3 linked regions of the Homo sapiens genome follow. The protein of the gene in region 1 interacts with the protein of each later gene in a pairwise test. Each region holds a gene or a part of one and is shown on either strand. Other genes may lie near its edges. The genes, in order: DKKL1, FJX1 and C11orf71.

Region 1 (3,647 bases):
CTGAGTGTCTGTTTGGTCCTTGCAATTCAAAGGGTGGGCTGCTGTTGTTAGGTATGCAAATTAATAGGTCCCACCCCACTCAGACCTGCTGAATCAGTCTGCCTTTTAGTAAGATGAGGTCTGAGAAGCCGCGCAGGAGATTGTTATGTGTTAAATTGTTTCCTCCTGGCTGGACGCGGTGGCTCATGTGTGTAATCCAGCACTTTGCGAGGCTGAGGTGGGCAGATCACTTGAGGTCAGGAGTTTGAGACCATCCTGGACAGCATGACAAAATCCTGTCTCTACTAAAAATATGAAAATTAGCTGGGCGTGCTGGCGCGCTCATGTAATCCCAGCTACTTGGGAGGCTAAGGCAGGAGAATCACTTGAACCTGGGAGGCAGAGGCTGCAGTGAGTCAAGATTGTGCCATTGCACTCTAGCCTGGGCAACAGAGCAAGACCCAGGCTTAAAAAACAAACGAACAAACAACCATATTGTTTCCTCCCCAAATTCATATTTTGAAATTCTAACCTGTAATACCTCAGAATGTGGCCTTATTTGGAACTAGGGTCATTGAAGATATAATTGGTGAAGATGAGGTCATTAGGTTGGGCCCTAATCCAACATGACTGTGTTCTTTTTTTTTTTTTTTTGAGATGGAGTCTCACTCTGTAGCCCAGGCTGGAGTGCAGTGGCACAATCTCGGCTCACTGCAGCCTCTGCCTCCTGGGTTCAAGCGATTCTCCCACCACAGCCTCCAGAGTAGCTGGGATTACAGGGGCATGGCACCATGCCAGCTAATTTTTGCATTTTTAGTAGAGACGGGGTTTCACCATGTTGGCCAGGTTGGTCTCAACCTCCTGACCTCAGGTGATCCACCTGCCTTGGCCTCCCAAAGTGCTGGGATTACAGGCGTGAGCCACCATGCCCAGCCTATTTATTTATTTATTTTTTGAGATGGAGTTTCGCTCTTGTTGCCCAGGCTGTAGTGCAATGGTGCTATCTTCGCTCACCGCGACCTCCACCTTCTGGGTTCAAACGATTTTCCTGCTTCAGCCTCCTGAGTAGCTGGGATTACAGACATGTGCCACCATGCCCGGCTAATTTTGTATTTTTAGTAGAGACGGGGTTTCTCCATGTTGGTCAGGGTGGTCTCGAACTCCTGACCTCAGGTGATCTGCCCGCCTCGGCCTCCCAAAGTGCTGGGATTATAGGTGTAAGCCACCACTCCTGGCCATACTTTGTATTTTTTTTTTTTTTTTGAGACGGAGTCTCGCTCTGTCGCCCAGGCTGGAGTGCAGTGGCACGATCTCGGCTCACTGCAAGCTCCACCTCCCGGGTTCACGCCATTCTCCTGCCTCAGCCTTCTGAGTAGCTGGGACTACAGGCGCCTGCCACCATGCCTGGCTAATTTTTTTGTATTTTTACTAGAGACGGGATTTCACCGCATTAGCCAGGATGGTCTTGATATCCTGATCTCATGATCTGCCTGCCTCGGTCTCCCAAAGTGCTGGGATTACAGGTGTGAGCCACTGTGCCTGGCCCCATATTTTGTATTTTTAGTAGACGGGGTTTCGCTACGTTAGCCAGGCTGGTCTCGAACTCCTGACCTCATGATCCGCCCGTCTCTGCCTCCCAAAGTGCTGGGACTACGGGTATGAGCCACTGTGCCTGGCAGGAGGCAACTTCTCTCTAGTGGATAGAGCCCAGGGATGTTATCAAATATCCTACAGTGCACAGGGCAGCTCCCACAATAAAGATTATCCAGCCCCACATGCCAATGATGCCAACCTTAAGAAATTTTGGTTTATGGAAAAGAGACTATAGGGATATTTATTATACTATTTTTTTTTACCATAAAGACACAGGCACATGCATGTTTATTATGGCACTATTCACAATAGCAAAGAATTGGAACCAACCCAATTGTCCATCAGTGATAGACTAGATAAAGAAAACATGGCACATATACACCATGGAATACTATTCGGCCACAGAAAAGGATGAGTTAATGTCCTTTGCAGGGACATGGATGAAGCTGGAAACCATCATTCTCAGCAAACCAACACAAGAGTAGAAAACAAAATACTGCATGTTATCACTCAAGTGGGAGCTGAACAATGAGAACACATGGACACAGGAAGGGAAACATCACACACCAGGACCTGTCGGTGGGGGGTGGGGGGTCAGGGGAGGGATAGCATCAGGAGAAACACCCAATGCAGGTGACGGGCTGATGGGTACAGCAAACCACCATGGTACATGCACCTATGCAACAAAACTGCATGTCTGCACATGTACCCCAGAACCCAAAGTATAATTTAAAAAAACATAAAAATACTATGTCTTAATATAACTTACTGTACCATGGATTTGTTAAAAACTAAGGTAAGTCATTAAGAAAATGATACAAAGCATAAAAGATCATTTATCAAAATTACAAAAACTCTAAAACCAGTGGACAAAGATCCAAAAAAAACTAGTAAAACAATTGAAAAATTATTTGAGTAATAAAATGTAACTATGATGACGCAATGACAGCTTGCATCTTAAAACAGGTTAAAGAAAGAATATTTTTTAAAAAATTAAGAGAATGTAAAAGTCCAGAGAGAGTAGCAAAATCCCCAAAACTCTCACGGTCCAGATGGTTGCTGGGCCAGGGTGAGGTCTTGTGACCCGGCCCTTCCAGGTGTTCAAAAAATCTGTAGGGACTTCTAGCATAAAAAACAAAGGTCACAACAGGTCAGGTCAGGCTCTTCAGCATCCTCATCCTCCTTGAACTCACTGGGTTACATTTCTTCTGCCTTTTCAGGCTTTGTCTCTATTGTTTTTTCTGCAGGTGCTGGGAGAGTACTTGTTGGCATATGCTGATGGTCATCTGCATGATTGGACTCTTCCATATCTGCTCCAGAAGCTTGAGTGTCTCCACTACAGGAAGAGTCTTTGTCATTACTGGTTTTAGAAAAGCTGTCCTCAGAGCCACCATTTTTCTTGATGCCTTTCACGGTGACAACGGCCAGCACTTGCCCTGAGGACATCTCTTCAGGAAGCTCTGCTACAAGAATGGCGAAGCAATCTTTTTTCTTGGCATCTCATTTTGCCCTGTGAAGAGATAGGGCTGCTTCTGGGGACTTTTCACTGATCACCATCCCCGCCAGGTCATCCTTGAAATCATTTACCTGGACTCCCTAGGGTGCCTTCACATTACATGGGGCCTCCTTTTCCTTGATGTTGTTGGCAAATTCTTTCACTGGATTATCTATGGGAACTTTTTCCTTGGCACATTTGTCGGCATTCAGATCCAGTGGAGCATCCTCATGTGAGCTTTCGTTGGTGAGGTCTTCCACCAGGGTATCCTCCATGGGAACTTTTTCCTTGGCTCATTTGTCAGCCTTTAAATTTAGCAAAACATCCCCATCTGAGCTTTTGTTGGCAAGGTCTTCCACCAGGGTATCCTCCGTGGGAACTTTTCCTTGGTGAATTCATCAGCCTTCAATCCAGTAGAGCGTCCTCATCTGAGCTTTCATTGGCAAGGTCTTTCACCAGGGTATCCTCTGTGGGAACTTTTTCTTTCATGCGTTTGTCAACCTTCAAGTCCAGTGAGGCATCCTTATCTGAGCTTTCGTTTCCAAGGTCTTCCACCAGGGTATCCTCCATGGGAACTTTT
Region 2 (4,329 bases), on another chromosome or scaffold:
AAGTTTAAAAAGGGGGTGTTTGTCATATTTTAGTCCCCACATCTGATTCTATCATATTTGCCAAATGATTAATATAGGAATATACTACAGTGAAATCCTTTCACATCGAAGTTTTATTTGCCAGGAAATAGAACACTTTCCTCCCATCTCTCTCCCCATCTTCCCCCACATTTTAGGCTAAACTCAAATTTCCAGCACCAAGGTTCATCTGAGTGAGGACAGGGAGTCTGCTCTTATCTTTGTTCAATTCTGTAAGTTCCGTAGTCACAACTGGAATGGATATGCATCCTTTGTTTTAAAAACACATCCACAAGAAAGAAAACCTAAATCTTATTCTGAAAGCAGATGGGGCATCAGAAACATCAAACAAGTTAAAACCACAGGAATTAAATTATAAATTTTAAACTCCCTTTTATTGAAATATAAGTTTGTTTAGTATATTTACACCACACTTTATGCACATATATACAGAGAAGGTAAATTCTGTAAAATAAAATTTTTTCTTAATAAAAAATGAAAATCAAAACAAAATAAAGTGCATAAAACTGATTTTTTTTTTTCCTTCTGGTGAACATCATCGTTGTCAAAATTTTGGTCGGTTGCGAGAGGGAGGAAGAAATTCATTATTTGACTTAGTGCATACAGCTGACCCTGAATTTGTAGCCTTCAGGCCAAAATGACAAGAGGTCAGGAATGAGTCAGGCAAATTGTCAAGGTCTGCAGGGCTCCCCAGAGTCTGGAGGTCCTGCTCTCTTTGTCCTATCGCGAGCCGTCCCCCTGCTTGGAACAGTGATCTCACCATCGCGGCGCTGGAACAAAGGGAGAACACAGGAAGGGGGCTCCACCAGCCAATGTCACAGCCCTGCTCCGGGGCCACCAGCGCTCTGTTTGGTAGAAAATTGCAGAATTAGCTCAACGGCTCAAACGCAAGTTTTCCTTTTTCGGAAAGGGAATGAGGGGGGGCCCAAGAATGGGGTGCATCTCCCACAGGGACGGCCACTCGGGGGCCAAACCCCAGTAGCCAGTTTCTTCGGATCCAATCCCCGTGCTGGCACAGTAAAGAATCCTTTTATAAGCTGGGTGGAGAGAATGTTACACTTCTCGCCTCGGTGAGTTCGTCCTCCCAGAACTTTGAAAGGAAACAGCGTGGGATTGAAAGAAAGGGGCAGGTGGGTGAAAAGCTGAAGTTTTTAGACACCTTTGCGGGTGGGCGTTGGCCGGCTGGTCCCTGACAGTGGCAGAGGCGACCGCCCTTCCCCCCATCATCCATACCCCAGCCCCAGATCTCTCTCTTTTCCTCCCGGTGACACTAAGTCCCAGACCGGCGGCCGTACTTGGCCTTACAGTGCAAAATGTGCTTGGCGAGGAAGTCGAGGCGGCGCTGTAGCAGCTGAGCGTGGGGGTCTGCAAGGGCGGCCAGCTCGGGGAAGCGAGGCTCGTGGCGCCGGTAGAGGCGCAGCAGCCGGGCCGCGGCGTCCTGTCCGCGGTGCAGCTCCAGGACGCGCCGCGCGGTCCGCTCGCGGAACACGCACACTGACTGCAACAGCGGCTCGTTATACTTGTCCCACATGCCTGCTACCCGGTAGCCGTGCACCAAGCCCGCCTCATTGTCCAGAAAGACCAGCGCCCCGCCCGGACCGCGGTGCAGGTTGCTGGTGGCACGCTGCATGACGCGCGGGTCCCACTGCAGGCTGAAGAGGTTGCTTACGAGCCGGTCGAAGTTGGCCGTCAGGTAGTCGAAAAGGATTAAGTCGGTCCATTGTACTAGGTCCACCAGCTCCGCCTGGCTGAGGTTGGCCAGCTCACCCCCGGCATCCCGGAGGGGGCGCAGACGGCCGTCCTCCGAGCGCCAGGGCGCGGGCACCACCACGTCCGTGAGGTTGGGCAGCCAGCGTGTCAGGCTCACCACGCTGCCCTCGGTCCAGTGCGCAGCGCGCAGCTCCTCCTGCACCTGCGCCCACTGCGCGCCCCGAGCCTCCACCCGAGCCAGTGCCAGCGGCGGCACGTGGCGCTGGAGGCCCAGCAGGCGCGCCAGATAGTAAGACAGGGCCTCGCCCTGAATCTGCTCCGGGTTGATGCCGTAGCGCACGCAGGCGCGGGTGCCGTCGGCAAAACGGGCCAGTCGGTTGGAGCTGCGCCCGCAACCCCCGCGCTCCAGGGCCACCATCCGGGCGCCGCGAGCCGCCTCCAGCCACGCCGCCGCCTGGGCCTCCGAAAAGCCCGGGGGCACCTGCTCCTCCAGGCCGCGGCTCCAGAAGACGCCCCCGTGCACCGCGGCGCTCTCCTCCGGCCGGGGCTGCCTGGCTGACACGTGCCACCTGGGCTCGCTCCGGGACTGCCGGGGCGGGCCGTCCGCGCCGGCCGCCAGGGTGAGCAGCGCCCGGAAAGTTTTCAGGGAGCCGCCGCGGGCGTCCCACGCCAGGGGCGGGGGCAGAGGGAAGCGAGGCGCGGGCGCGGGGCCGCCGCTCCGGGCCGGGCGCCGTGGGAGTCGGTCTTCGGGCGGCCGGGAGGCGGGCAGCTCGGTCCGCGGCGGCAGGAGCCCTCCCCACAGCGCCAGCAGCGAGCCCAGCGCCAGCAGCCAGAGCCCCGCGGTGGCGGCGGCGCCCCGCATCCTCCTGCCCATGCTCCCGCGGCTGTGCCGGTGCGCCGCCGCCGCTTCAAGCCGAGCCCAGGCACCCGGGTCCCGGCGGCGAGGCGGGCCCGGCAGTTTGTGGGCTCCGGGGCTTCGGGCGCTTCGGCCCCATCGCGGCCGCGGGGCGCTGCGGGGCTCTGTCCGGCGCTCCGCCCGGCGCTGGGAACTCGAGTCCCCGCCGCTTCCCAGCTGCTTTTGTATTTCGCTGTGAGACCCTCCGGTGGGCGCGATTCACAGGCGCCCGGACCACGTGGGAGCCAGGGGGATCCCCCTCCCCCTCCTCCGCCTCCGCTCCCCGCCCCCCGCTCCCCCGCCCCCTTCCTCTCCTCTTCCACTTAAAGCGGCGATGGCTCCTTCCGAGAGGGAGAGGCGGCCCCACACTCGGTCCGGGACTTGGGGGCCTGGAGGAAGCCGGACTGGCTGCGCCCGCGCCGGGGCGTAGGAGGGGGTGGCGCAGAGCCGGAGTCTGGGGCCTGGCGGGAGGGACGCGCCCTGGGCCCTCGCGGGGGTGTCTTGGTCGCCGGGTCCCTTTGCCTAGGCAGCGCGGGTCTCCTGCAAACTTCAGACAGATTTCCACCTCTTTCCGAGCTCCGCCAGGCTAGGATCAGGCAGGGTCCCTTTGCTTTCTCAGTTTCTGTCTGGGTGATTCACGCTGCTTTATGTAAATCTCTGGGAATGTCTCCGAGCCACAGAGGATGTGATTCCAGCGGAAAGAGGAACCCGCTGTAGCCAACAACTTTGAACCGACACTCCCTTTTCCGAGCTCGCACATCAGCACCAATCAGTATTGGCCGCTCTGCCTTTCCCAACGGACTCCCAGGGAATGAAGCCTCGCTGTGCACGTGCCCCTTGAACACCTAGGCCATCTCCCATTCATTCATGCATCCATTCAACACAGCGACTGCCCCTCAGTTCTGGTTCTGCTTACCAGAAGCAAAATCCACAGATCCGGGTCCCAGTGCTGCTGAAATTTACATTCCAGTGGGACTCTCAGGTTGCTAAGAGAGATTATAGCCATCCAACCTCGTGTTGGGGAGAGGGGAGTCAGGGACGACTTTTCGAAAGAAATGATACCGTTTTGTCCATGAGGAAACTGAGGCACAGAGAAGGGATGGGTGTTGCTCAGGATTGCACAATTAGCAAGGGGCGAAGCTAAAAGTCAAACTCAGGTCTCCTGGCCGCATGCACTTGATTTTCCCTCCATTAAGAAAGATCAGTATTTTTTTTTTAATCAAGTCAGCATTCTCAAGTTTGAAATTCACTGTCATTTGACCACTTTGTTCCCCAAATGTGATTTTTCAATTAAAAGGATTTTTCAAATGGAAAGGAAAAAAACCTCAATCCCATACTGCATTTGATTTACTGCTTTTACGATTTAAGGGAAAAAGAAATGGTGGTGGTGGTGGGGGAGGGAGGTGGTGAAGGAGCAAAGAAAACAAAATGAACAACCTCTTCACCCCAACACATCTTCCAGCCACCTCTGGGTTACATTTACCAGGAAAACTTGGATGCCAGTCGGCCCTCCCTTACCTCTCTGTATCAGAATGAGTCCCAGATCCACACTGAGATTCCCAGGGTAGACACAAGATCAGGGGCATGGTGGAATCCACCTCTCAAAGGCCAGAGTTTGAAATCTGTTTCCTTACATGGTGTGTATCTTTTCTCTCCTTTCATCTTCCCATCAGGTGCACATGGGG
Region 3 (4,022 bases), on another chromosome or scaffold:
GTCATACCTAATTTTTCTCTCCTCATCCCCCAACTCCCCATTTCAACTTTAACCGAGTTTATTTTTTAAAGCATAGGATTATATACTAAATGGGAAAAAATGAAGAAGTCATCTAGTCATATTTCGCACTATGAGGATTCCTTTGACAAAATCCTTCACAAGATTCAGCCTCTCTGAACTTTCTGGCAGCTAATTCATTACCTTTTGAGGTGGTATTTTCCACTACTAGGCATCTCTAAGTTTTAAGAAAGGCTTCTTTATCTTCAGCTTTAATTTTATTCTTCTTCCCCAGTCTAACACTCTGTTTATAGTTTGGAATTCCTTTCTCAACCACGGGTTTTTGTAATGCCCAGATTAAGCCATCCATTGTATATTACAAACTAACTTCTTTTTAGTTATCTGAAAAAAAATTAGTTATATATTATCCTTGGGAAAATTGAGAAAATAGTTACTCAAGTCATTTTTTTTGCATTCAGATGAGGAACCTCATTTGAAAGGCTGCAGGGCTCTATCATTTACTAGCTATATGACCTTGGAAAGTTTATCTCCTTCACGCTGTTTTTCAGTAACAAAATGAAAGTAGAGTACCCCTCTTATGGGCTGCTGTGAGAATCAAATAACATATAAAGTTCCTTAGGAACACATACTTTTATCATGTTCACCACTTTATTCTAAGTGCTTACCGCAGGCAGTAGCAGGTACAGAGTAAGTTCTCAATAAATATCTCTATAAACAATAGAAGTCCTAGCACACTGACTTGCACATAGCACTCAATAAAAGGTAGCTATTACTATTCTTTCAATCATTCTTCCTATGATCTGGTTTCTAGAATTCTCACTATATTAATCACCCTCTTATGGAAGCTATCTTGTTTACTCAACATTCTTCTTAACACGTAGTTATAACAATTCAATACTATGTGGTGTATGGAGATTTTGCTTTATTTGAAGATAATTATTTTAAGGAAGTCTAAACAGACAAGCGTCTGCTGGGAAAAAGCTAGTCTACCTGCTTATATAAAGAGCTGGCACTTACAAAACCCATTAACTTTCTCAAAATACCACCCTTTAAACATTGGGAAATGTATGGTTAAGAGAACAAAAATAACAGCAAATAAGGAGTGATCAGCCAGGTAAGAGAAGAACCAGGATAGTGCAGTATTATGATGAAAAAAAAAAAAAAAAAGTCACTGCAACCAGTACTTATGTTTATTACTGTACCTAATAAACAGCCCAGCGTGGTGATTCCTATTCACTTAGTAGCCTCCCCATCTAGAATATACTCCGTGATCTTTCTTGATGGCCAGACTGTGTAAAATTCATACAGTGTTTACTACAGGGATCCCCAAATATTGTTAGTTGAATGAACAAACACACATTTCAAGGAGGGCACTACAGTGAGTAGATGAACAGTTTTCTGATAGGAGATTGTACAAGTAATGTTTTCACCAGTGTATTTTAGGACAGCAGATTCAGATTAATGCGCTGGGACTGAATGCAAATAGTAAAATTACAAATATAAAGTAAAAATTTGGAACCTTTGCCAAAGAAAGGAATAATAAATTGATTTAATAATTTGAAAGAACTGTAAGGTTTAGGTTTTGTTCTTATTTTTAGTGCGACTGAGATTGGAGTCTGTTTGTAGACATATCTGAAAAAAGTGAAGGGGGAGATGGAAGATGGTAAATGCCAAGGAAAAGATGGAAGGATAAATCAGTGTAATAAAAAGGAGCACTTCTTTTTCGCCAACAGAAGTAAAGGTAAAGGTTAAGTGTCTGAGTTAACGAATGGATTGTTGACCTCTGGGGAGGGTGCTCCCATCAGCTCAGCTTTGTGACGACCTAAGAATATCCCTTCCACACCTTTCCTGATCCAATCGTTCTGGCTGCATAAAACCACCTAAATCAATCAACTGTTACACTTCCCTTAGTGCTAGGACATATTCATATAACTCCCACGTATTAAATGAAAATACATCCATCTAAAAATAAAACAACACGATTGCTGCTACACCAAGAAAGGATTTTAAAAAGGCCTGTTCACAAGCTAAGTGAGGGCCAGAGGAAAGGTGTTCGTTTAAACTGAAATTCGAGCTGCGATAACACCTCCTAATGCAATCAAACGCTGTTGCAGCACACTTCTTAGGAGATCGGGTTCAACGGCAGGGATTGGGTAAGGTGAGAATCTGGCTTGGCGGCTCCGGCCCCGGCCATCTGGTTCCCTTGGGCTCCGGCCGCCACCATCCACTCGACGGCTCTCGGCCCGAACGCTTGGTCGCACCGCCTGCCGAGGTCCTAGATGAATCGCTTCAGGCCTGGAAACGAGGAAGCCGTCTCCGGAGACCATCGCCAACGCTGACGCCCGCGGTCTGAGGTCGCCATGGGAAGAGCGGTAGGCCACCCTGCTCCTCTGATCACCGGAGGACAGGGACACATTGTTCAGGGCCATATTCAAACACTGCCCGCAGTACTTGCGTTACGTCCCTTTGTGAAGGCAGGCCCTTCGCGGCTCCCCAGATCAGTCCAGCCTGTGTCGGACCCGATGACTAAGCACACAGGAACCCATAACTGAGCCTGCGGAAGAGCCAGAAGCCGCCTTGCCTTTAACGAGGGGTATCCTGGCGAGCATGCGCAGACCGTCCGCGCACGTCGTCGCCCGCTGAGAGCAAGCGCAACGGGCGTTTTCGTTTGTGACGCCAGGGAGCGTGAGGACGTGGGGCTTCCGTGAATGCGCAGTGGGTGCGTCGGCCACGACCTTTTGGCCAGGTTAGGGAGGGGGCGACGCTGAGATGGGGGCGGCGGCGGCGGAAGCGGATCGCACTCTCTTTGTGGGCAACCTTGAAACGAAAGTGACCGAGGAGCTCCTTTTCGAGCTTTTCCACCAGGTAAGCGGCTGGGTTCGGCCCTTTGCCTTTCGTTTTCCGTCTCGCCTAGGGCCTGGCCAGCGGCCACCCCGTTTTCTTTTCGTAGCCGTCAGGGGACCCGACGGGTGGCTGTTTGGGGGTGAAAGGCGGGTCTGGGTTGCGAAACGCTCGCTGGGTGTCGCTTTCCTGGAAGATCTTGGTTCGTTTAGGCCGAAAGTGACGACTAAAGGTGGTGGAGGGATCCTCGATCAGGTTTCCCGTGGTAGAGATCCAGGGGTCCTTGGGAACACAGTGTGTGTGTAGGGTCTTCGTTGAGCAGTGCTTTTTCTTATCCTTCCTGTTGTCATCTTCCCCTTAGGATAATTTGTCTTTGGTTTATCTGACTGGGAACTTAATATTTTAATTTATTTGTGTCTGTTTTCCCCTAAAGTTTGCTTATCAAATTGCAGCATTATTAAAATATGTAAAATAAAATGGTTAAGTACTCCGTAGAAAAACAGCATTTTAGTGTTGCTGTATTAAAAAGTGTGAAAAATTCTGAGTATCCTATTCCCCCCATCCCTATCCCCTAATAACTGGTATTGTTTGATTAATCAATACAAAAGTCCGTTTTTAGTTAAAGAAAATCATTCTCTTGTTCTTGATAAATGTTCATTTTCATGGAGTGGCAAAATAATGGCGATTGGTCACTATGTTAAGCCATACAGTGCTGTGAATTGCAAAAGTGATTGTGTTTCCAGTTCCTTATGGGCCCCCTTCCCCAAATAAATCTAATGTTCAGTCATAACTAGGATGTTTACTGTAGCCAAAATGGAAATCCGTGCATCATTTTCAAAAGAAGTTTCTGATTACGTTTCTGTTGTTTTTAAACTTTGTCATATCTTATTTGTAAAATTTGAGTATTTTCCCTTAGTTGCTTTATTTAAATTCTAAACACCTTTTTGTTTGTAGGCTGGGCCAGTAATAAAGGTGAAAATTCCAAAAGATAAGGATGGTAAACCAAAGCAGTTTGCGTTTGTGAATTTCAAACATGAAGTGTCTGTTCCTTATGCAATGAATCTACTTAATGGAATCAAACTTTATGGAAGGCCTATCAAAATTCAATTTAGATCAGGTAACTGCCCAATGAGGTTCGGGGGGCATTGTTTCCTGCTGTTTTT

What was found.
Region 2: the proteins of DKKL1 (region 1) and FJX1 interact in a two-hybrid assay, tested with the Homo sapiens proteins (one large-scale study listed by BioGRID and IntAct).
Region 3: the proteins of DKKL1 (region 1) and C11orf71 interact in a two-hybrid assay, tested with the Homo sapiens proteins (one large-scale study listed by BioGRID and IntAct).

What each region holds. Positions count from the first base shown.
Region 1 is NC_000019.10:49,370,289-49,373,935, reverse strand, and holds part of DKKL1 (dickkopf-like protein 1 isoform 1 precursor), read right to left. Parts: exon of another isoform or gene 2,793-3,647; intron 1-2,792. UniProt on the Homo sapiens protein: Involved in fertilization by facilitating sperm penetration of the zona pellucida. May promote spermatocyte apoptosis, thereby limiting sperm production. In adults, may reduce testosterone synthesis in Leydig cells.
Region 2 is NC_000011.10:35,616,931-35,621,259, reverse strand, and holds FJX1 (four-jointed box protein 1), read right to left. Parts: upstream 2,801-4,329; 5' UTR 2,624-2,800; coding exon 1,310-2,623; 3' UTR 395-1,309; downstream 1-394. UniProt on the Homo sapiens protein: Acts as an inhibitor of dendrite extension and branching.
Region 3 is NC_000011.10:114,397,885-114,401,906, forward strand, and holds C11orf71 (uncharacterized protein C11orf71), read right to left. Parts: upstream 2,628-4,022; 5' UTR 2,448-2,627; coding exon 2,076-2,447; 3' UTR 648-2,075; downstream 1-647. Other genes in the region: RBM7 (RNA-binding protein 7), read left to right, coding at 2,788-2,883, 3,814-3,976.